Linked DNA regions of Homo sapiens: regions 1 and 3 are each linked to region 2. The links come from fine-mapping of genetic effects on gene expression. A gene starts in region 2. Each other region holds a variant in brackets. All regions are shown on one strand. Distances are from middle to middle. Region 1 overlaps RAB6B (RAB6B, member RAS oncogene family). Region 2 holds the start of RAB6B (RAB6B, member RAS oncogene family). Region 3 overlaps TF (transferrin).

Region 1 (8,181 bases), 22 kb after region 2:
GCACCATTGCCTTCTTGCTTGCATTGTTTCTGAGGAGAAATATACTGTCCTTTTTATGTTTGTTTCTCTGTACATAATGTGTCTTTTTTTCTCTGACTACTTTTATGATTTTTTTTGTCACTGACTATGCAATTTGACTAAGATGTGCCTTGCTGTAATTTCCTTTATGTTTCCTGTGCTTGGGATTTTTGAATCTGTGGATGTATAGTTTTCTTTAATTTTGGAGTATTTTCAGTCATTTCTTCAAATATTTTTTCTGTCACTGCCTCTCCCTTCATCCTTTGAAGACTCCAGTTACATGGATGTTAGACCACTTGACATTATCATAGAGCTTACTGGTGTTCTTATCATTTATTGTCATTCTTTTTTCACTGTGTTTCACTTTAGGTAATTTTTATTACTGTCTTCAGGTTCATTGATCTTTTCTTCTGCAACATCTAATCTGTTTAATCATGTCAGCCAGTGTAGTTGTTACCTCTGGAAGTTTGATTTGTGTCTTTGAAAATCTATTTTTTACCCCGTGTAACTTCTTAAACATATTATACTATATGTTATTATACTAACATATAGTATATAGCATATATTCTATATATAATAACTAAGTTATATATAATATATATTATATAACAGTTATAATATATAATAACTATTTCTTAATATCTTTATCTGCTAATTATAACATCTCTGTCAGTTTGGGGTTGGTTTCAGTTGATTGTTTTTTCTGCTCTTTATGAGTCTATTTTCTTGCTTTTTTACATGCCTGATAATTTTTTATTGGATACCAGACATTGTGATTTTTGCCTTGTTGTGTGTGGATAGTTTTTCTGTTCCTATAAATATTCTTAAGATTTGCTAGCTGTGGCCAGAGTAGGGCTCAGTGTATGGCTAATTATTACCCACTGTGAGGCCCAGCCCTTCTGAGGACTCTCCCCAGCATCCCGTAAATGATGAGACTTTCCACTCTGGCTGCTGGGCAAGAGCACAGTCTCCAGCCTGGTGTGGATGCCAAGCACTGTTTCCTCTAGTCCATTTGGGCAGTCTTTCCCCAGTCTCAAGTAGTTTCCTCATATACATTTGCTGATCAGTGCTCAGCCGAAGGCTTGAGGGAAACCCTTTGCAGGTCTCTGCCATTCCCTTTCTGCATCTCCCTCTCTCTGGTATTCCATCTTCTGAACTCTAGCTGCTGTGTTTTCTCTGAGCCTCAGCCCTATCCTTTCAACCTAGGGTTTCCAGTGGGTTTCACCTGGGTCCCCACTCCCTGTGCTGTGGCCTGGAATTTTCTGAGGGCAGTAATCTGTGGGGCTCCCCTCCTCTGTTTCATGTATCTCAGGGGTCATCATTACCTAATATCCTGTGGCTTGAAAATTGTTGTTTCATATATCTTGTCTGTCTTTTGGTTGTTTCAGGTTAGAGGCTAAATCTGGTCCCTGTTACTCCATTTTGACCAGAGCTAAAGTCTTGGGACCTTTTTTTTTTGTGTGTGTATTCATTTGTTTATAGGGAACATCAGTCTGGGCAGGCAGTGTTGCGTGGTCTGGTTATCAGCCTTGATTTTCATCTGGGATGTTCATCCAGTTGATTGTATAAATATGTAGACTTGCCCTCCAAGTGGCAACAAAATTTCTGCACTCCAGACTCTTTTTGAGAACTTTCTGCTGCCCAGCTCTTATAAAAAGCTCAATATTGGCAATTGATATAGTTTTATCTCCTGAACACTGTGAATCTTACCCTTGGTTGTGCTTCTTTTTTTCCCCTTTGACTGCCAGGGAGCTTAGACAGTTTCTTAGTCTACCTTCAATAATTAGGGAAGATTTTTCAAGATTTTTTTTGTAAGCAAATTTGTGGTCCAGCTTTCTCTTTTTAGCTTACATAACTTTTGCCTTATATTTTATCTCTCTCAGCATTTGTAGTTGTGAATAAGAGAGAGAAACTCTCTCTATACAGCAGATTTGAGCAAGCAGTGAATGTATTAGAGGAATGATTGGGAAGTTCATAGAATCCTTGGGAGGGTCAGAGATCTGGGCTTGGAGCAGCAGCCCGAGTCATATAGAACTGGTCCGGGGGAGACACAGCTCCTATGCTGTGTTCTGGCAGGTGCCAATGTTGAAATGCATGTCATGGCTGCCCCTGAATTTAGAATACAGAGGGAATTCTCAGTCTCACCAGATTCATGTCAGTTGAATCTGGTAGAGTCTTACGTGAACATCTGTTGGGAGAAGCCTCAGTTATTTGCCTACAAAATAGCTGCAGAGGAGGCTCCTACACTGGGGAGAATGGTTTTGGACCTCCCCAAACACAGTAGGGGTATTCAGAGGGATTGGGAGGCTTTTCATTGTTATTGATACATAGCTACTTTATTCTGATACTATTTTAAATAATTACGTTTTCAAATCTTATTTTCATGAGTCATAAGTACAAGTACTCCTTGTGCACAGTAGTCGCATGCCGGATAGTACTGCCTCTCCCTCCACACGAGTGCGTTCGGTTCTCCTCTGCCTGATTTTGAAGCTGGGGTTGACTCTTGGCACCAGCGTTTCTTAGGGTAAGGTAATGGGATGCATTCTGTGGGCAATGTACCCCAAGTCATTAGTCCTCACAGCAGACTTGGCTGTAGCAGGTAGGGAAATGGATTGTCCCTAGTGCCCTGAGTGTCTGCTTCAGGCTGGGGGACAAGAAGAAATCTCAAGTCAGGTGTGGACTCTCAGTTTAGAAGCCCCAGGGCAGGGATGATTTGCAGTGTCCTGAGAGCTCATAAGGCTCTATGGGAGTATGGAAGGGCTGAGGCCAAGACTGATGTGCAGGCTGGGCCTGGGGGCTTTGGAAAGTGAAGAAGAAAAGCTGGAAATATCAAGTATATATTATTATTAACTGGAGTCACCATGCTGTATAGTGCGTCTCCAGAACTTCTCTTATAACTGCAAATTTGTACCCTCTAATCAGCATTTCCTCCATTTCCCCACCTCTGACCCCTGGTAACCACCCTTCTACCCTGTGCTTGTATGTGTTCTACTTTTTTAGTTTCCACATATAAGTGAGATCATGCAATATTTGTCTGTGTCTTGTCGAGTAGATCTTAAGTATTCTTAACACATGCACACACACACACACGTGTAACTGTGAAGTAATGAATATGTTAATTAGCTTGATTGTGGTAATCATTTCACAATGTATATATAGTCATGTGCTGCATAGCAATGTTTTGGTTAACGACAGACCGCATGTATGAAGGTTGTCCCATAAGATTATAATGGAGCTCAAAAATTCCTGTTGTCTAGTATTGCCTATGCTATACTTTATGTTGTTATGTTTAGAGTGTACACCTTCTACTCACTTTTTTTAAAAAGGGAACTGTAAAACAGCCTCAGGCAGGTCCTTCAGGAGGACCTCCAGAAAGCAGTATTGTTATCACAGGAAATGACAGCGCCGTGTGTGTTACTGCCCTTGAAGACCTTCTAGTGGGAGACGGAGAGGTGGAAGACAGCGATATTGGTGATCCTGACCCCATGTAGGCCTAGGCTAATGTGTATGCTTGTGTCTTAGTTTTTAACAAAAAAAGTTTAAAAGGTAAAAAAAAAAAAATTAATAGACAACATATAGAATAAAGATATAAAGAAATAATTTTTGCATAGCTGTACAGTGTATGTATTTTAAGCTAAGTGTTATTACAAAAGAGTCAAAATGTTAAAACAAGTTAAAAAGTTTATAAAGTAAAAAATGTTGTAGTGAGCTAAGGTTAATTTATTATTAAAGAAAAATATTTTTAAATAGATTTAGTGTAGCCTAAATGTACAGTCTATTGTAGTGTAATGTCATAGGCTTTCACATTTACTCACCACTCACTGACTGACTCACCCAGAACGACTTCCAGTCCTATGGCTCTGTTCATGTTTTATGTTTTTTACCATACTTTTACTGTACCTTTGCTGTTTAGATATGTTTGGATACACAAATACCACTGAGTTACAATTGCCTACAGTATTCACTGCAATAATGTGCTGTGCAGGTTTGTAGCCTAGAAGCAATAGGGTACCATTATAGCCTAGGTGTGTAGTAAGCTGTACCATCTAGGTTTGGGAAGCATACTTTATGATGTTTGCACTACGACAGAGTCACCTAATGATGCGTTGCTCAGAACTTATCCCTCTCATTAAGCAAAGCATGACTATAGATAGATAGATGGATGACCCTTGAACAAGATGGGTTTGAACTATGCATATCCACTTAAAGGTAGATATTTTTCAGTAAAATTCACACCAGTGTGCCTGCCTGTCCTGCCTCCCTGTCCACCTCTTTCACCTCTTCTCTGCCATTTTTGAGACAGCAAGACCAACCCTTTCCCTTCCTCCTCCTCTTCAGCCTATTCAACGTAAAGACAATGAAGATGAAGACCTTTATGATGATCCACTTTCACTTAATGAACAGTAAATCTATTTTCTCTTCCCTATGATT[G/T]TAATAACATTTTCTTTTCTCTAGCTTATCTTAAGAATAGAGTATATAATACATATAACACAAAATACCTGTTAATCAACTGTTTATGTTATCAGGAAGGCTTTGGTCAACAGTAGGCTATTATAATAGTTAAGTTTTGTGGGACTAAAAAGTCGTATGAGGATTTTTGACTATGCAGGGTATCAGTGCCCCAACTCTTGCCTTCTTCAAGGGTCAACTCTCTATATATTAAAACGTCACATTTTACACCTTGAATATATAAATTTTTTTGTTTATTGATTGTACCTCAGTAAACCTTGGGGTAGAGGCAGGAAGAGAGGAAGCTAGAGAGGAAAAGAAGAAAACCAAAGATGATAGCACCTTTTGCAGGGCAGGAGAGGGGGCCGAGCCCTCCTCTGTGGCGGCTGGGGCTTTGGTCAGGTACCTGAGGATGGGGCCTCTCCCAGCCCAGCTGTGCTGGCAGCATGTTTCTCTGGAATTTGCCTCTTTGTGTTAAAGGTGGAGCCTCTGGGGGAAAAAAAGCAGGAGGAGGTCCAGGGTGTTGGTATAGGAAGGAAAACTGAGACTAAATCTTCCAGTCTCCAGCCAGTCACCCTGTGGAGCCCCAGCAGACCGTCATGTCCCCAGCAACCACAGAGCTGCTGAAAGTGTTCAGGAGGAGCTGGAGGACCAGCCATCCTGGGAACACTCCTGTCTAGAATCTTAGTTTTCGTGATGACAAGGGACCTTTATTTTGCCTTTCCTTTTTCTGCTCTTGTCCATGTACTGTTACGTGGATGGGATCCTTTAGGATGCACTCGCCCTGTTCCTTCTTGCTGTAGTGGGCAGGCTTACTGGGCCCCCTGTTTGGATAGAGGAGATGGGGTGGGTGCAGGATAGTGAGACGGGGCACTCAGTGGAGAAGTGAGAGGGTCAGGCATCGGTCCGCCTCCTAGCTGGTGCAGGAGAAGGGCCTGGGCCAGACCAGCCTGTGCCACTGTCTGGCTAACCCCTCCCTCCCTCACCTTCTTTTGACTCCTCCCTCCCCTCTACCCTCCCCTTTCCATCTTCTCTGGATCCCTGGGTGAGGCCCAGGCGGCTGAGCGTCCTCTAGCAGAGGGAATTAACACACTTAATTAAAATGTCCAATGAAGAGCTTTGCATATTTCTTAATTACCATCTGAGTCTTTTGGGGGATGGTTTGAAATGGGGTTTTTCACGTGTTTCCTCATTTAGCCTACGGTGAGCCAGCCAGCCCCTCAGGGCTCTAGTGGGAGCTGCCAAAGATGCATGCCCAGTTTGGGGCTGCCTTTTGGAGTCCAGGGTGGCAGGGTAGGGTGTGGAGCAGATAGCCCAGCTACCAAGCTTACCCACCTTTGAGGAAGAATAGGGCTGGACTTTCTGTTTGGTGAAAACAGAGCCAAAGGAAACAAGGTTCAGATGGATATAGCTGGTGTCTCTAACTGTTTCACTTGTCACCACAGGGCCTGGGGGCCGTACCTCACAGTCAGGCCAGGAATGGTAGACTATGAGCAGAGGTTACAGGGATGGTGCAGGCCTCACCCCAAGGGCCCTGTGCAGCAGGGATGCGGGTAGCCTGGCCTCCTTCCCAGCTGCATGGCAAGGGCCGAGTCCCTCTGCAGGTCCTTCCTAGCATTTATACCAGCAATTCCCACTTCTGTTCTAGAAACTGAGCTGATGGGATGGCTGAGTCAGCGGGTCTCTGCTAGGACTGGGTTACTGGTCTGCACAATGAGGAAGCAGACTTGCCTTTTCAGCCCTGAGCACCACCTTCTGAAAGCTGCAGACATTATCTGAAATGGGCCTGGCTGCTGGGGGCTGTGGGCCGGGGATGCAGAGATTCTTTTCCTGGCTCAGGGACTGATTTCCTGAAAACACAGGCATCTGAGAGGTGGGCAGCCCACCAAGATGGCTTAGAAATGGCAGTGAGTTATGCCACATCTGTCCTGCCTGCCCTCTCCTCCCGGAACTCCTGGGGCCCTAGGCCCTGAGCCCAGCTCTGTGGACCCCAGGAGGATCAGGATCCCACTGTTTGGCCAGGAGCTCTGAAGAGCTGGTGTGTGTGGTAAGTGTGGATGCACAGCCGAGAGCAGACTGTGGGCCAGGGTTCTGGCTTGGCTCTGTGAGGGGCTAGCTAGTGGGTGGTACACCTTCTGCCAGGTCCTGGCAAACCCTCCGTGCAGTCTCTGGCTAATGTCTGTGCTCTGCCCCCTGCTCTCCCCAGTTTCTGGCCCTTACAGCAGCCTCTCCACCCACACCCACACCCGCTGTGGAGGCGACAGGGAGAAGAGCTGTCCTTCGTGGAGGGAGGCAGTGTCAGTGGAGGAGTCTGGGGACTTACTGCCCACTCAGCTTTCAGACTGTGATGTGGGCACAAGACAAGACCAGAAGTCCTCATAGCCACTGGCCCCAAAGCTGTGGGTGGATTTGGCGTCACGTGGCAGCTGTGGAGAAATGTGGGCAAATGATTTTAAGCAGAGGAATCTCAGCCTCACATGACTGTCGTTTCATCCAGTCCCTTCCCCGGGAATGTTGTTCCCTGTGACCCCCTCATCTCCATCAATCAAGGCTCAGCCCAAATGGTGCCTTTTTCAGGAGGTTACTGTGATTTCCCCAGCAGAGCGGCCTTTCCTTGCATGGGCCTCTCAGGAGACCCTTCCCGTATTGCCTGGCATTTTAGTATTTGGATCTGGGTCTCACTTCACCACTGGATATGGACTGCTTGAGGCCAGAGGTGCATCTGCTTTGTCACTACAAATTCTGTGCCCTGCACAACAGGACTGGCACACAGTGAGCCCCAGTGGGTGTTTGCTGAGTGGCTGGAGAAGCCTCACTGGCCTCTGCAGCTACCTAGAAACCACCAGAATGTACAAGAATCTGTTTACCTGGGACCTGCCAGTGAGATGGGGGCCTGGGGCCCATGGGGCACTGGTGGAGTGAATGGCCCCTGTTGGTGAGGTCCAGGTAGGCAGTGGTAGCTGATTGTGAAGGGCCAGCATCCAGTGCACCCTGCATTGGTGGGATTTCCAGGGTACATGGGACCAAGCTCCTCTGGACATCCCCATGGATGTGCAAGACCCCTGGGCCAGTAGTTCTCACTAGGGTAAGAAAAATAACTGTTTCATGCTGATGCCAATAGTGAAAAATAAGCTTACATCTTTAGGACAAGGGATTGAATGATTATTGTTAATTGTTTTTTCTGAATGCAGTGCTGGCATTTGTGCTTTTGCTCTGACAATTATGAAGAAGGCTTTTATGAGTGACTGAATCCAAGGTGATTGCTTGGTGTCTGTTCCTTGTCCAGTTGTCTTGGGCTCAGGGGATAGCTCTAGCATCTAATGGTCATGAACCCAGGTCACAGGGAGGAGTTCTGGGCTCCTCTCTGAATCTGACCAGTCACTGGTCCTGTACCCTGCTCTCCTCCCCATTCTCTCCAGCCCCACCACCTCTGCATTGTTCACTGAGATCCTCCATCTCTGGCAAGATTTCTGCCCCTAGTCTGGCTTCTGTAGGCCATTCTGTAGCAGAGTGTCCCCACCCAAATCTTACCTCGAATTGTAATCCCCATGATCCCCACGTGTCAAGGACAGGACCAGGTGGAGGTGATTGGATCATGGGGGCGGTTTCCCCCATGCTCTTCTCGTGATAGTGAGGTCTCATGAGATCTGATGGTTTTATAAGCATCTGACATTTCCCCTGCTTGCCCTCACTCTGTCCCGCTGCCTTGTGAAG
Region 2 (8,181 bases):
TAAAAATTAGCTGGGTGTGCTGGCGCACCTCTGTGGTCATAGCTACTTAAGAGGCTGAGGCAGAAGGATCACTTGAGCCCAGGAGTTTGAGGTTGCAGTGGGCCATGATTGTGCCACTGCACTCCAGCAGAGTGGGAAAAAATATTTGTAAATCACATATCTGACAAAGAACTAGTATCTAGAATACATAAAGAACTCTCAAAACTTAACAGTAAAGAAAAGAATCTAATTTAAAAATGGACAAAAGACATGAACAGACATTTCATTAAGAGGATATACAGATGGCAATTAATCACATGAAAATATGTTGAACATCATTAGTCATTGGAAATGTAGATTAAAACCACCCACAATGAGATATTACTACATTCCTCTCATAATGGCTTAAAATATTGACAACAGCAAATGCTGATGAGGGTGAGAAGAGGCTGGATCGCTCATCCATTGCTGGTGGGGAGTGGAAAGTGGTAGAACCACTCTGGAAAAGTCTGGCAGTTCCTTTAAAAAACAAACATGCATATGACCCAGCAAGTGCACTCCTGGGCATTTATCCTGGAGAAATAAAAACTTCCTTTCACACAAAAATCTCTACATGATAGTTCATAACAGCTTTATTTGTAATGGCCCCAAACTGGAAATAATTTCAGATGCCTTTCCACAGGTGAGTGGTTAAACAAACTGTACGTCCATACTATTGAATGCTACTCAGCAGTAAAAGGGAGCTAACTATTGCTACAAACAATAACCTGGGTGAATCTCCATAGAATTATGTGAAAAAAAAAATAGGACATGCAGTGGAATAGTAACCAGCAGGGAAAATGAAAGAACTGCTGCTACATGAATCAACAGATGGATCTCAGGAACATAATGTTAAGAAAAATGCAAGTCATAGGACAGAATATACAGTTTGAGACATTATATAAAATTCAAAAGATGCAAAACAAAAAAGTATTGTTGGAGGACACATCCAAATGTGATAAAAACTCAAAGAAAAGCCACAGTTCTGGATTTTCAAGCTGGGGAGAGAGGGAGGGGCAGAAACACCTGAGGGCCTCAAAAGTACTGTAATATTTGAGTGCTCCAGCCAGGTGAAGTGAAAAAAACAATCCCAAAGGGTGATATACTGTGTAATGCCACTTATATAAGATTCTTGAAATAACACATTTATTGAAATGAAGAACAGATTAGTGGTTGCCAGAGGTTAGGAAGGGGTTGAGGGTGGGAGGAAAGTGGGTGTGGCTATAAAAGGGGAACATGAGGGCTCTTTGTGTGTCAAGGTACAGAACAGAAATGTACCTTGACTGTCTTAATTCCAGTATCCACATTATGATACTGTAGTATAAAGTTCTGCAAGATCTTACTCTTGGTGAAAACTAGATAAAGGATATACAGATCTGTCTTTTTTTTTTTTCCTGTTTGTGAATCTACAATGATCTCAAAAATTTAATTTAAATATATATATATATATATATAACACAGCAAAGGGCTCAGGAAAACCAAGATCTTGAAGAAAATGAAAAATATAGATGATGCTGTAGTGCTATATGATCTAACGAATATCTTTGAAAAATAGTTTGGCACAAAATTAAACGTACACTTGTTTTTATACCACAATTTACCTACTGACACATATCTTAGAAAAACTTCACAGAGGCATCAAGAGACATGTAAAGAATGTTGATGGCAGCATTGTTTGTTAATAGCAGAAACAAAACTGAGTGCATTTTCCAATGTTAATTTCCTGGTTTTACTAAGCAATGTGGTTATGTAAGATGTTATCACTGGGGTAGCTTGGTGCAGGATACATAGTAACTCCCTGCACTGTTTTTTATAACCTCTATGTGAGTATAAAATTATTTAAAATAATTTTAAAAAAGGCCAGGCGTGGTGGCTCACACCTGTAATCCCAGCACTTTGGGAGGCTGATGCAGGCGGATCACGAGGTTAAGAGATTGAGACCATTCTGGTCAACATGGTGAAACCTCGGCTCTACTAAAAATAAAAAAATTAGCTAGACCTGGTGGTGCGTGGCTGTAGTACCAGCTACTCGGGAGGCTGAGGCAGGTGAATTGCTTGAACCTGGGAGGCGGAGGTTACAGTGAGCCGAGATGGCGCCGCTACACTCCAGCCTGGTGACAGACCAAGACTCCATCTCAAAAATAATAACAACAATAATAAAATAAAATAAAATAAAAATTTTAAATGACACATTTTACAGAAAATCATTTAAAAATTGGGGCATAACTAGAATACTAACCAGCAGTGAAAATGAAAGAACTGCTGCTACATGAATTAACAAATGGATCTCAGAAACATGATGTTAAGAAACATGCAAGTCAGGACAGAAAACACAGTTTGATACCTTATATAAGATTCAAAAGATGCAAAACAAAACAAAGTATTGTGAAGGACACATCCAATGTGATAAAACTCAAAGAAAAGCTAAGATTCTGGATTTCCAAGTTGGGGAGGGAGGAAGGAGAAGAAAGCACCTGGGGGCCTGAAAAGTACTATAATATTTGAGCCCTCCAGCTGTGTAGAGGGTAAATGGGCACTCAGAGTGATAGGTTTTCTTTGTAACTTACATATACACAGCACATACTAAATAGGAAGATTTAAAGAATTTTTTTAAATGGAATGCACAGATTCTATGATATGGAAGAAACTCTTTCTAGTGAGGTTGCCAGGCTGAGGTTCAGTGGCCCCATTTTCCACCTGGAGAAAGTCTGTCTGCTTTAGGGCAGGTTAAGGACAAGACTCAAAATCAGGGGAGATAAGCAATGATAGTTGGAGGAGAGAGACTTGGAGCAGAGCAAACTTGGAGTCTCTAAGGCTCTCATTTCCACAGCATGATGACTGCATTCTGAGAGCAATGCCAGTATCTGCTCCAGCGACGTGAGCCCGGTAGTCGGAGCCGGGTTTTTGTCATTTGAACTGGAAGAATTATGACAGAGTCCCCCAAAGTAAGCTGGACCATAGTCAGCCCAGCTGGACCTGGTAAGCATATGGGATGACTTGGAGGCTTAGAGGTGCCCAGAGGGGCCCTGCCCCAGCCCTCCCTCCCCTACTGCCATACCACCTTACATGTGCGGGACCAGATGATCAGAGGAGGTACAGGACCTGCCTAGGCTTACCCAAAAGATGGTGCCTTTTCTGGCACACCTCAGCTGTTTTGTCTTGCCACCGATGATCTCATCAGGTCAGGATGAGAGGGTACAGGGAGACAGCACTAGATGTTAGGAGAAGGTGCAGGTTGGAGGAGTGTTGCATGGCTGGGTACCTTGGCCAGTAGCTCACTGGCCCTTCTTTGGAGGGATCACTTATAGAGACGGGAAGGGCTGTGACTTGGGAGTCTCCTCTCCTTTCAGAGCTTTCTTCAACCCCAAGCTGGATATGGTCTCCTAAGAGAGCAGGAGCCCCAGAGAAGTGGGTGGGTGTCTGGAGGGTTACCCTGAGCCTGGTGCCAGCCACAACGGGGCAGATATTCTAGGTGATGACTTACAATCCCTGGGGTTCCAAACTAAAGGTAATTATGAGAATAGGACAGTTATTTTGATTTGAGTTCTAGATGTTCATTCAAACATTCAACAACTATTTCTTAAACTCTGAGCTATGTCCTTGGGATGCAGTGGTGGAGCTTCAACTACTGCTTTTATGGAACTTGTGGTCAGGTTTCTAACAAGAAATAGGAAAGAGATTCGAGGTGAGCACACCAGGGAGACAGATAGGCTTGCCCAAGCAAGCCCCATAAGTCAAAAAGGGGGTAACAAGTGTCCACGAGAAATCTGGAGGTGAAGGTTGTGTCTCACTCCTCTTTCTCTTTCTATAACACATGCGTGCACACACCATCGTGTTCACCGACATGCAGATTATTATCTCAAATAAATGCTCACTGAACAGCCATAAATGAACAAGACCACGCTGTGGCAGAACAGTAAGGGACAGCTTTGTAAAACCTCAATTAACCAGCATGCCTTAGGCTCGGGCTGTCTTGGGAGTGTTTCTAGCACTTGGCGTCTGCTCTTTGCTCTCACTCACTCACAACTTGGTCTGTGTGCCTCGATGGACCAGGCAAGTAGAGGCCAAGGAGAGGTCGCCCACATGTCCTCAGATAGCTCATTGTCCAGATACACCTAATTGCCAGGGTGGGGAGTGGCATTGTCAGCCTGGCGACCCCGGGATCAAGAAACGCAGGGCACTGTCCTGGAGATAGTGGCACTGGCATTCAGAGCGTCACCGTTCCTTCTCTCCCATGGGGCAGGTTAGGATTTGGCATAAAATGATCCAAATGAGCAGCTGGTTTGAGGTAGGCGCGCCTGATATTGGCAGCTCCTCTCTCGCTGGCCAGGTCTGCGGGGGCACCCACAGACTCCACAAGAGGCCGCCCAAATAAAGGGTCTAGGCCTCGAGAGGGAAGGGCGGGCTAGAAGCCACGGGGGGCAAGAGTCGAGCCCCATCTGCGCCAAGTACGCCAGGTTTCCCTAGGTCTGACCGCCCTGACGGGCCTCGCCACACCCTGGCTCTCCCCCACCTTCGTTCCTTTCCGCCCTGTCGGTCGGACGACTGCGCTGTGCATCGGTGTCTCGCGAGGTGGAGGAAGGGACTGGCATCTAGGTTTAAAAGACCAGAAACAAATGTCCCCTGACAATTTCTGTCATTTTCTGGATTCAAAAGAGGGGTAGAGTGGGGAAGACAGACGCAGCGGGGCAGCGAGACACGGTCCCCCCCGGGGGGCTCTCAGGGGTACGGCGAGGAGGTTCTCTCCTGCCCGGGTGCGGGCTCGGGTGGGCGGGCGCACGCCCCCCAGCCCCGCAGCCCCGCGGGCCCCGCATGACATCAGAGGCTGGGGAGCGCACAGAGCGCAGGCGCCGGCGGAGGAGGCAGGCGGGAGGGGGCCGACTGGCGCGGCTCTGGAGAGCGCTCCTCCGCCCCGCGCGCCGTCCCTGCGCCCCGCTCCGCCCGCGCCTCTCTCCCAGCGCCGCGCCTCGGGCGTAAAGAGCGCGCCCCTCGCACCGCAGCCAGTGCCGACCGCAGCAGCCCAGCCCCAGCCTTCCTCCGCCTCCGCCTCTCTCTCCTCCTCCTCCTCCGCCGCCGGACACGCAGCCGCAGGCCGGGACCGGGACGCAGCTGGGGAGTCAGGGACGCGCGCAGCCAGCCCTTCCCCCTCCGGCTCCCGCACCGCCGGCCGCCTCCCCTCGCCCTCCTACTCTCCCCTCCCTGCTCCTTCGCTTTTTCCTCCTCCTCCTCTCCCGGCCCCGGCTGCCAGCACCATGTCCGCAGGGGGAGATTTTGGGAATCCACTGAGAAAATTCAAGTTGGTGTTCTTGGGGGAGCAGAGCGGTAAGTACCCGGCTTAATCTCTTGGCTTGTCGCCGAGTCGACCCCCGCCGCCCAATCGCCCACCCCATTGGGACCCCCGGCCCAGGCTCGGAAAGGCCCCTCCTTGCCAGGGTAGAGGAGAGGGACAGGGATGGGGAGGTCGGGGCGGGGTCGGGCTGGGGAGGGGCCAAGGGTGAGGACGGAGGAGGCGCTGGAGCCTGGGGTGGAGGTGAGGGTGGGCTCTGGGTGGGGGGCCCGGGGTGTGGGTGCAGGTGCGGCGCTGCAGGGGGCCCGGAGGGCGGCGGCTGGCTCCGCGGCGCTGGCCAGGGCGTGAAGGAACCGGGCTCGCTGGCTAGCTCACACTGCGGCACCGGCTGCGGGCGACCGCGCAGGTGGCTGGGTGCTGGCGGGGGTGGGGAGAGCGACGGGCGCCCCCCTTGGAGAACGAAGCGAAGCTGGGGTCTGGCCGGGCCTCACTCCGCTGCACTGGAGGGGTGTTCCCTGCGGACCCTGCTGGGAACCATGCGAAAGGGCACGTCCAGGGCGTGGGACAAACAGCCACCGGGGAGAAAAGAGCGACACCTGTCTCTGCTCGAAAGAGCGAGTGCAGGCCATGGGGGAACGGGGAGCCTACCTCCCCTGGCTCACGTCCGACTGGGCACAGAAGGTTCTAGACCCGCTGCCCTTCGCCGGCGCTTGTTAGTCTCCTTGCTGCCCAGGGATCTGGGCAATTGCAGTGAGGGCTACCCCAACTCGAGGCGATTTGGGGAATGATACAGGGGCACCTCACACCGAGAGGCTGTGAAGTCTGGCTCTGGGCAGAGAAAGGCCCAGGCGACACGCCCTGCCTAGCTTCCCAGCACTCCTCCAGAGAGCATCGGTGGATTCTTCCCACCCCCACCTCCCAGCTCACCGCCCTTCTTGGGGGAGGGGAGGTCACCCTGGCAGTCGGCCAGAGCTGGGGGAGGGGGAGACTGCTTCTCCGCTGCCCGGCTCCCTCCCCAGGAAAACATCTCTGAAAACCAGGTTAGTCCCTAGAGGCGGGAAGCCCAGATTGAAGGGCAGGGACCCCTCTGCCACCTGTAGGAAGGAGTGGCTTTCAGAGCATCCCTCCAGAGGCCTCTCGCATGGGGCTGCAGGGAGACAAACTGAGCTCTGGTCAGCTCTGCTCTGGGAGAAGGCTGTCCTTGCGGGACAGGACCCCAGCTCTGCCTCTGCAGACCAGTCCTGTTCACCTGGGTTGGTGCCTCTCTGACAAGGGGGCCCAAAAGAAAGGCAGCTGTGGGAGGACTGGGTGGGCCCAGGAACAGTGCTACTGTGCTGTGTGTACATGAGGGTTATGGAGGTCACGTGGCTGGCTCTTGTCTGCTGATACTCATTGCCTAAGATGGATGGTTCAGAGAAGGACGTTAGAAGGTAGTGTCCAGGCCCAGTATGGAGATGGGTTTGGGGGACAGGCTGGGCATTTCAGAAGAAGATCCACTCAGCCAGCCAGCGTTTGCCCTGGATTCTGATTGCCTGTTTTTAATAGATCCCAGTTTCATAGAGCTGACCATACCCTGTGTCTGGAAGGGATTTTGGTGGTATTCACATCCCAGTGCTAGTCTCACCCGGCCTGGAGCCCTGGGAGATAACCTGCAGGGATCAGGCAGCCTGGGGGTTGAATTCTTAGCTGTGTTGTCTTTAGTAAAATTTGAGGCCTCTCTGTGACTCACTTTCTGTCTCTGAAAAATGGTTGCTTGAAGACAATTCTCTTACTTCTTCATGTTTCTTTAGTGCCTCTCAAAGTGCCTGGCCCCTGGTAGGTTCTCAGCAAACATTTGTTCTAAGTCTGCACAAGCTTCAGAAAGGACTAGGAGTTTGGTGAAGAAAGTGTCTCTGGTGAGTTTGAGGGAACATCTGGGCTCCTTCAGAATCCCTGATGAACGGAGGCCCCTGCTGGGCTCCACAGACCCCCTTTGCTCCCAAAATCACAGAAATGAGAGCTGAAGCCTAAGAAATGAACCCACCACCTCTCCCATATGTTCAAATGGGAAGTCTGAGCCCCAGGGAACAGGGAGGCCTTGCCTGGAGTCCCAGAGTCCCATTGTGAGTTGCTAATGCTTCTGGGCTGGAGCCCCACCTCTCATTTCCAGTCCAATATTTTTCACTAGCGTGTCATTGTGAAGTAAGATGACCTTGAATTGGGGAAGCCAACAACTGGGGAGCCTCCCCAAGAGGGAGTAAGGGTTGCTTCTGTCCAGCCAGGCTTATAGTTGGGGCTTGTGACTGGTAGGAATGCTGAGTAGTTGGTAAGGAGCAGGGTTGTGAGCCCTTGGAACATGGTCATTAGAGAGTCACTGCTATCAGTGAGATGGGCTGCTGGCCACCCTGGTGCCTTCTGTCAGGGAGTCCCAAGGCCCTGAAAAGCCTGTTTCCAATTTGTTGCATTGTTAGTGGGTTCTTTTAGGTTTTACACAGCTTTTGAGTTAGGTAGGGGACATGTATGTGCATCTCTAAGCCTTATGGGATGGGGAGTCACCTCCACAGCCGCTTCTTCTACCTTGCCTGCACAGTTTTGCATCTGTTGGTCATTTGTGCCAGCATTCTCTGCAGCCTGTGCAGTGGAGAGAGCCACCTGAGGGCTGGCCCTCACGCTGGCCCTGGCTCGCTCTTTTTATATGACCTCAGAGGTCCCTTATCTTCTGTGCATGGGGGACTTGGGCCAGCTGAGCTCAGCGGAGTCTTTCAGAGCAGCATGGGCTTGCCGATATGAGCCGAGTGCCCTGGAGATGGGCCAGGGGAAGGAGCTGGAGGGATGTGGCTTTATCTTATTTCCTGTGCCTAGCATAATGGTGGCATTTCTCTAGCCTGGTGGGCAAG
Region 3 (8,181 bases), 140 kb after region 2:
GGTGAAGAGGAGCCAAGCAGGCATCCATGAGAAAAACAAAGAAGCTCAAAGCTTAATTCTAGAACATGGGCCACAGGTAAATATCCAATGTAGTCATCTTCCTCCTCCAGTCTGGGAATCCTTTCTGCCATCCCAGTAATACCAGTAATGATGTTTCTATGCGAGATGATGACTCCCTTTGGAAGTCCTGTGTGTCTACTCATGAACATGATTACTGCAATAACCGAGGGCACTGGTCACTTTGGGATCTGTTTTCCACACTCACCTTCACTTTCTACTGCAGCCATGATGTCCATGATAACAACCTTGGGAAATTGGGACAGGTCAGTGGCTTCCCATTGACAGTGATGATGTGTCACAGGTGTGGGACCAAATAAACTATGTCTTTCAACTTTGTTTCCAATAATTCTTTACTAGCAATGAGATTAGTTACTTTTGTTTCATTAATCCATGGGCCCTGGACCTCCTAAAGTAGCATATAATTTTATGAACTAAATGTTATGCATGAAACATACCTATCCAGCAATCATCCACTTGGACGTGGTCTCACAGAACATGGCAATGTTGGTCTTTGGTTTCTGCCCCAACATCTGTAAGCTATTTCCAACATTAAAGGCTCAAACGATGACATCTTCATAGGAGAGCAAATTATGATGTCCAAGAAGAACCTTTTAAAATATGTTTACATTTGGTTGTACTTAATCTTCATTTAAGATTTCACATGTTCCCAAGAGTCTTTTGCTCTTCCTTTTTTTTACAGACGTAAAAAACTTTATCTATTGTATCACATCCAGAGTATAATATTGAAGCCCAGCCACTCAAACTGCTAACAGATTTGTATAGACTCAGGTTTTGAATTTGTAGGCTTTGCTTTAACTTAGTTTGGTTTTTCTTGTCTTGACTCAGACAAAAATTAAAATGGAATATATGTTAAAATAGCATAAAGTGATATCTATAAATTGTATGAAATATAAAATAATGAGCTTGATGGTCCCTTTTTGCTTCATGGTAGATAGTTCTGAAGATACATGGTTATTCATAAGTGCTCAAAAAGTAGAATTAACATATTTCAGCAAAAATCTGTTGACAATGGCAGGAAGTACCTTTATAATATGCATCTTTGTTTCAATATATTTGCTGATTTATTATAAAGGATCCAACTCAAGAATAGCCAAATGGAAGAGACACAGAGGGCAAGAAATGTGGGGAGGAGGGGGAGTGGAGCTTGGCACTTCATGTTCTCTCTAGGCAAACCATACTCCCCCATCTCGATGTGTGCACTAACACAGAAGCTCCAGATTAGGTTTTACAAGAATGATTTATGATATGGGAAAAGCTTACTAGATACTGTGAGTGAGTAAAAGGTAGCAAGCAACCTACATGAAATGATCCCAATAAGGGAATTTTCTCTGAATTACATGATTATAAGTACTTTTTATTTCTTCTTTATATCATTCAGGATTTTAAAAATTCTCTGTAAGCCAACATGGAATATTCTTTCTTAAAAAAAAAATGTTGTTAGAGACAAGGTCCTGCTAAGTTGCTAGCCCTGAACTCCTGGGCTCAAGCAATCCTCCTGCCTCAGCTTTCGAAGTAGCTGGGACTACAGGTGCATGCCACCATGCCAGGCTAGGATACTCTTTTGATCAACAAAGCAAATTTGTACCTGATTGGATCCTACCATGTACTCAGGATCTTATCTCAGTGATCGTGGCACACCACTGGTCTCAGGACACCCACACCATGGTCCAGCCTCCCTAAGCAGGCACTGCTCAGCCTGCCCTTTCACCATACACTCATACAAGGAGGAAACTGAGCCCTGTGGGCACCCTTCAGATCCACAAGCTCAAAGATTCTGAACCTCCGGTGGGGCTGTGCTCACATAGTCAGGGCAAGGTTCCTGGGAGCCAGGTTTTTGCATCATTCCCAGGAACACTCCCTAGCTCAGTCTTGGGGGCCAGCAGGCAGCAATGACAGGGACGCTGCCCTAGGAAGGCTGGAGTGACATACCATGATCTTGGCGATGCAGTCTTCGGTGGTCTCTGCTGATACACACTCTATTTTCCCTACACTGTTAACACTCCACTCATCACACTTGAGCCTCTCGTGGTGGCTCAGCGCACACCACTTCACAGGCTTGCATTCATCTGTTGGGGCTTCTGGGCCTATGGCATAAAAAAAGAACAAAGATCAGAAGCGGCCCTAGCTGTTGCCTGGTGTTTGTCAGCACTACTCACTGTCTTCATGCAAATGCTGGGATTTGCCAGCAATAAACAAACAGACCCCATTCAAGGAATTAATCACCTTAGAAAGCAAAGTCAATGCACAATCTCTTGGTTGACTTCTCATTTAAATTTAGTTTTTTATGTCTTCCGAGAAGCCAACTTTCCTCTCCAGCCTCTGGGCACTATATGACCTCTGGCTGTTTTTTTCCTTCTTGTTTTTCAGATAGCACTTAACTACTGGAGGTGTTCTTATTTATATGTTCATTGTTTATTGTCAGGTTTTCTGCAGGAGAACAGAAGCTCCAACACAGAAAGGGCCCTGCCTGTCTTGTTCACCAGGGCATCCTCAGGGTTAGGGCAATGCTAGCACATGGTCAGCATAATAAATGTCTGATGAATAAATGTACATCTGCTCATCTTTCAGACTGAGCTCAAGAGTCACTTCCTCAAGGAAGCTTTGCCTTAACGCCAAGTCCAGGGCCTATTTTTCTTTGTTTTGCAGTCTCATAGGGCCATGGTATTTTGTTGTCATATTTTTCCCCTTTTAAACATATCTCTTACTTTGTAATTCATCATCCAATAGCATGACTATTCATTAAACATTTATCTTCTCCCCAGTTTGAAATTTCCAGGACAACAGAATCAAATATATATTTGTCATGCCATCCTATGTCCAGCACCTAGCAGAGCATATGGCTAGATGTTCAATAAATGTCTGCTGAATAAATGAATGGTCAAGCAAAACCACAGTGACTCAGTGAAATCCAGGACTGGGATCAACCTCTCTTAGAGCACCTCTTCATTATGGTACATGTTGACTGGCTGGAGATGTGCAATATATAGCAATTTTGTTCTATTTCACTTACTCTGTGATAAGCTAATTGCCTTCACAGAGTAGGTAAGGCAGTCCTGATTGATGCAAAGGAAATACTGGAACCAACCCACGTCATTTTAAATGTGGATTTCCTGTAAAGCCCATGGTGACATCAAGGCCATCTCATAATGACTAACGCCATTCAGCATCAGTCTAACACTGGGCTCACAGACAGGTCAGAAAAAGGAGCATCAGGAGAGGCGTGCAGGTCCCTGAAAAGACTCAATCTCTGGCCCCTGTGCTCACCAGGTTTCCCAAGTGCTTGTGGTCACCTGGTTCTTCCCAGGTACTCACATGTGCCTTCCCGTAGATTCCGGATGGCAGTGACATACTCATAGCCCAGGTACATCTTGGCATCCATCCTGGGGGGGACTTTTAAAAACCCGTGGGCAGAGTCCTTAAACAGCAGGTCCTTCCCATGAGGAGAGCTGAATAGTTGGAATTCTTTTGATTTGTCTTTGCCAAAATGTTCCTGTTCATAGAAAAACAGAATAGTGGATGGCAACACAGAAGAAAGGAGGCTGAGAAATGGGACTGAAGAGAAAAGAAATCTCTGCAGGAAACAACATGAAAAAGTTCAAGATGCCAGGAGAGAGGGCAGTCGGACCTGCTCCTGCTCACCCAGCACTTCCTCTGCCTGTAGCCCTCGTGGGTCCGCGATTT[G/C]CCTGAACCTGCTTCTGTGCCTGTCTCCCGGAACGGGTTGAGACATCGGTGAGAACAAGAAACGTGGCTAATCCAGAGGCTGCCCTGTGTGGTTACCAGTCAAACTCTCAGTGGACAGATGGGACGGCTCGGCAAGAGGAAGCTGGCTGAGCCCAAATCACACAGCTCTTGGGAAGTAAAGCCGCTGTGCAGGCAGCCCCCTCACAGCCGGGCTGAGGGGCATGGGGAGAGAGACCATTTCCTTCTGGGAGGGTCATGGAAAGCCTCCTTGGGGAGGGGTTTAGCTTTGGGCCTTGAAGTTTAGGTAGAAAGGAATGCAACAGAGCAATACAGAGCCTCTTCAGGTGTCACCAGCCAGAAAGGCAAGGGCGGCAGACGGTAGCACCACAGCAGGCTCCCTGCTGCTCTGTGGGGAGTCCCAGCTTTTAGAGAACTTAGTGACATGTGGCATGGCTCCCACTGTATCCTGAACACACAGACTTCCAGAGTGACAAGATGGCCAGGAGGAAAACCCCCAAATCCAAGCAGGGAGCACTAAGCTGGAGGGGAGGATGGCAGGTGGGGATACCTGGGCCTGGTTGAGAAGCTCCCAGATCAAGTCCTCCTTGCCGCCCATACTTCGGGCCACGACGGTATGAGAAGGGACCTGGGCCAAGTGGCAGTCCTTGTATTCATCTACCGGCTTCCGGGTGTTGTCCAGGCAAAGCAGCTCATACTGGTCCCTGTCAGCCTTGTTTGCCAAGTTCTCTGGGGAGGGAAAGCCCAGGTGAGCTTAACACAGGAGAGCCATGGGCTGTGGTGCCCATCCTTGAAATTCAATTGATCATAGAAAGTATGAGCTGAGAGGTCTGGAGTGAGCACTGAAGGCCAGAGAACATGCGGGAGAATGACTCGCTCAAGAGCCCACAGCCAGGTAAAGGCTTCTGATGCCCATGTAGCAGTGATTGCTCCTCATTCCACCATGAGCCTGATCTTAGCAGCACCAACCCCCAGTCTTTGGTTATGGCAACACTACCCCAGAGGCAGAGGCACCGTGTGGAGAGATTGAATGATGGAAAGAGGCCCAGGAATCCAGATGGGGACCCCGTAGGTACCTAACTCTGCACAGGTGGAAACCCAGGCAATGATAAAGGAGAAATACAGTATGCTCATTTCCAATTACTGAGCATGAAAAAGGGAACACAGAAAAAGAACACCCACTACTTGGAGTGGCCCTGGTGGATTCTTGTCCCATTCTTACCAAATATAGTCGAGTGCTTGACAAAGGCCACATCCCCAGCACCATCCTTCAGACACCTGGGTCAAAGAAACACATCAGCAGGGCTCCTGCAGGGCAGGCCCTTCTCCTGCACCTGGAGAGTCTGATCACACTGTCCAGCACTCACACTAGGATAGAGCCTGGTGCAGCCCCGTAGCTGAAGCAACACCATGGTGTGCAGACCTCCAGCGTAGTGCTGAGATGGGGGAATGAGCTCACACGAGATAAAAAGCCCTCATAACCCAAAGAAGCAAAATGCAACTGAAGATATTTTCATGTGAAAAGAGCTTTTAAACTTCTGGAATAGAAGATAATGGTATAGTGTCTCCTGAGGGTGAAAATGTGCCTTTGGCTGGTTGTAAAACTTTAGGATATAATCAAGGTAAAAAGAGAAAGCAAGAAATCAGCTTCCCAGATAGAGACGGTGATGGGGGCAGGAGACAGGCAGTGTGCTGAGCAGGTAACACTGCTGAGATTGAGGGAAGAGGGCCAGTCCCTGGACAGTGGGCCCAGACACTAGAGGCATGATTGTCCTTTCAGGCTCTGCCCGATCCACCGAGAGGAGACACTGACCAGGCTTGAGGGCTCTGGGGAGAAAGGAAGGGTCCCCAGGAAAAGGACCTACTTGTCAGGGTCAGATGAAAGGGAACATGGGCTGGCTTGGCCTAGGAGTCCCAGGTTGTGCTTCTGACTCACTGGGAGGGGATTAGGCCACCTCGATGCCCCTGTAGGCAGGCAGGGCTCGGCTTTGGACCAGCAAAGAACTCTCACCCTGAGGACATTTGGCACTTTGGCCACCATGGAGCAGCAGACATCTCACTCACTTGAAGGCTCCCGAGTAGCCGAAGTATTGGTTAAGGGTGGAGCAGCCACACCCTGGACACAGTTGACACAGCTGGGGGAAGTCCGTCCCATCCGCACAAGGGGCACAGCTGCCCGAGAAGAAATTGGCCACTGCTGCTCAGCACAGAGAAATGGACAACAGAGCATGAGTGAGGCTGGCCACAGCCAATGGCATCACCCCACCCAGGCCCATCAGGGAACAGAGGGGACTAAAACCAAACCAGCACATGCAGCCCCAGCTTGCCCTTATGCTAACTCATCAAGATCAAGGATTTCTAATAGGAACAAGTTGACCTCTGTCTGGCCACCATCCATCAGAGGAAACAGGCCTATGCTTCCCACTAACCAAGGCCTATCTCGGGTCTTTCTCAGAGCACCTTCTCCCTGCTTTGTCAGAGGCTGGAACAGCTCAGAGAGAGGTCCCCTCTGGGATCCATGCCCCAGACATGAGAACTGCTTAAGAGAGGTGCAGGGCTCCAGAGAAACCTCCAGGAAAGAAATCCAGAGAAGTGGACAAGAGAACCACCATCGCCTAGACTGAAACCCTCTGCCGAGCCTTGCGCCCTTTCCTCACTCATCAGAACAGCCTCTGCTGGGGTTTTGGAAGCTCAGAGCAGAAAAAAGCTCAGCTCCACCTCCCAAGTGCTGCTGGTGCAGCAGACCTGCCAGTTTAAAGTCTGTTAACCTCTTTCCCCCACCTGAGTTCATCCCACATGTCTGCTGATGGTGACTGTCTAGTGCAGCCTGTGTGGGCATCTGGAGCAGAGGCAGCTGCTCGAGGGCACCCAGACTCCTGCCAGCTTACCTTTCTCAAGAGGTTTACGTGGCTCAGGTAAGTCACAGTAAAGTAAGCCTATGGGGATGTTCCACCCAGCGGACCTGCCTAGACCCGTGTGGCAGGACTTCTTGCCTCGAAGCTGGTTCATCTGGAAGCCACTATCCTTCTTCACCACAGCAACAGCATAATAGAAAGTCTGTGGATCTGCAAAGGCACAGTGTGAATGGAAGGCCCTCAGCCTGGTGCAGGGAAACATGGCTCATCACCACCGGACTCTTGAGGAGGGAGGGGAGCGGAGAGGCCATGCTTTTACTGGACTGGGCGATAAGGAGTGGGGAATCAGGAAAACCTTCCTAGGGTTGCAGGGGAGAGAGAAGACCATAGAAGGAATATTTATAATATTACCCCTCCAGGCAAACAGGGGCAAGAAGGCCACACGCACATGTGTCCTGAATGCTTTGCCTCCCCTGGCCCTGCAGCGTGTCTGCCTACACCTACCAACCTCAGCCACCAGGAAACTGGAGCTGTGGTAACAGAGGCCCATCAAAGTATTTCATGTCCCCTGGCACAGGCCCAGAGACAGTCAGGTTGATCTCAGAAGACTTGCAGGGCTGCTGGCCTCTGAGTGTGTGCTCCAGAGTGACCCCTCCTGTGTGAGTGGTACCTATGGCTCCAGAGGCCTCCAGGGACCCTAGACATATCAGTAGACCGCAGTAGCCTTCAGGTCAAGCTGCACACAGCCTGCTGTGTTTCTCTGATAAGCATATGCCCCTGGCCCAGGGCTCAGTTTTAGGAGCACCAGTCCTCAGCCAGCCCAAAGCCCCCAGAGGCCTTGATGTGTGGCTGTGGCAGCTGACAGGGCCCCTCATTCTCTACTCACTCTCCAAAGATGAATGTTCATTATATCTGATATCCAAAACCTGCCTGTAAAACACAGCACTCAGCATATAGAATAAGGATGACAACTCCTTCCTGGGGTCCCAGGGAGAACTTACCCTCTTTTGACCCATAGAACTCTGCCACCACAGGCTTCAGGTTATTGGGAGCCAGGTAAGCATCATACACCAAACCTGCATCCAGTGTCACAGCATCCGCTTCGTTTGCCTGAAAGAGAACAGGCCAGTCCTGGATGAAGCCTTGACTTCCAAGGAAGGCCCACCTCAACCCACACAAGTAGAGAGTGGCTACCAGGACTCCACGGACCCAGGGCCAGAACTTGACTAGACCACGCACAGCCCTGCTGGCTTCAGTTGACTCTGTCTCCCTCGCAAGGGCACTTAGCCACCACATTCCTATTCCTTCTGCATAGAGGGAGTGATGGATTGTGTTTCTCTTTTCCCCGGTGAGGTGCCCAGCTCCTGGCCAAAAATCCTACGTGACTTTACCGTAGGCAATTACGAAGGCTTAACCTGGCAGGCTCCGTGGGAGAAAGCCGCCCTCGCCACCCCAGACTCAGAGCACAGCCAGTGCAATGCAGTCTCTGGAGGGGACTCTGCTGTCAAGGACACAGCTCTCTTGGGCTGGCCACGCTCTTCTTACA

Evidence for each region. PIP is the estimated chance that this variant, and not a neighbour inherited with it, causes the effect.
Region 1: its variant is fine-mapped to the expression of RAB6B in lung (TOPMed, PIP above 0.99).
Region 3: its variant is fine-mapped to the expression of RAB6B in esophagus mucosa (GTEx, PIP above 0.99).

Annotation. Positions count from the first base shown.
Region 1 is chr3:133,870,199-133,878,379 of GRCh38, reverse strand. The region is part of intron 1 of RAB6B (RAB6B, member RAS oncogene family); the gene reads left to right. Among named protein-coding and RNA genes, the nearest start is that of RAB6B, 22 kb to the left of the region's middle. The variant G/T (reference allele first, on the strand shown) is at 4,450.
Region 2 is chr3:133,892,556-133,900,736 of GRCh38, reverse strand. It overlaps RAB6B (RAB6B, member RAS oncogene family), which reads left to right and starts at 4,855. Exons shown (of 8, transcript NM_016577.4): 1 at 4,855-5,340. The coding sequence starts at 5,271. RefSeq lists a silencer at 4,836-4,885.
Region 3 is chr3:133,753,159-133,761,339 of GRCh38, reverse strand. TF (transferrin) reads right to left here. Exons shown (of 17, transcript NM_001063.4): 3 at 7,637-7,745; 4 at 6,669-6,845; 5 at 5,845-5,977; 6 at 5,003-5,058; 7 at 4,331-4,509; 8 at 3,394-3,571; 9 at 2,011-2,165. Among named protein-coding and RNA genes, the nearest start is that of TF, 11 kb to the right of the region's middle. The variant G/C (reference allele first, on the strand shown) is at 3,763.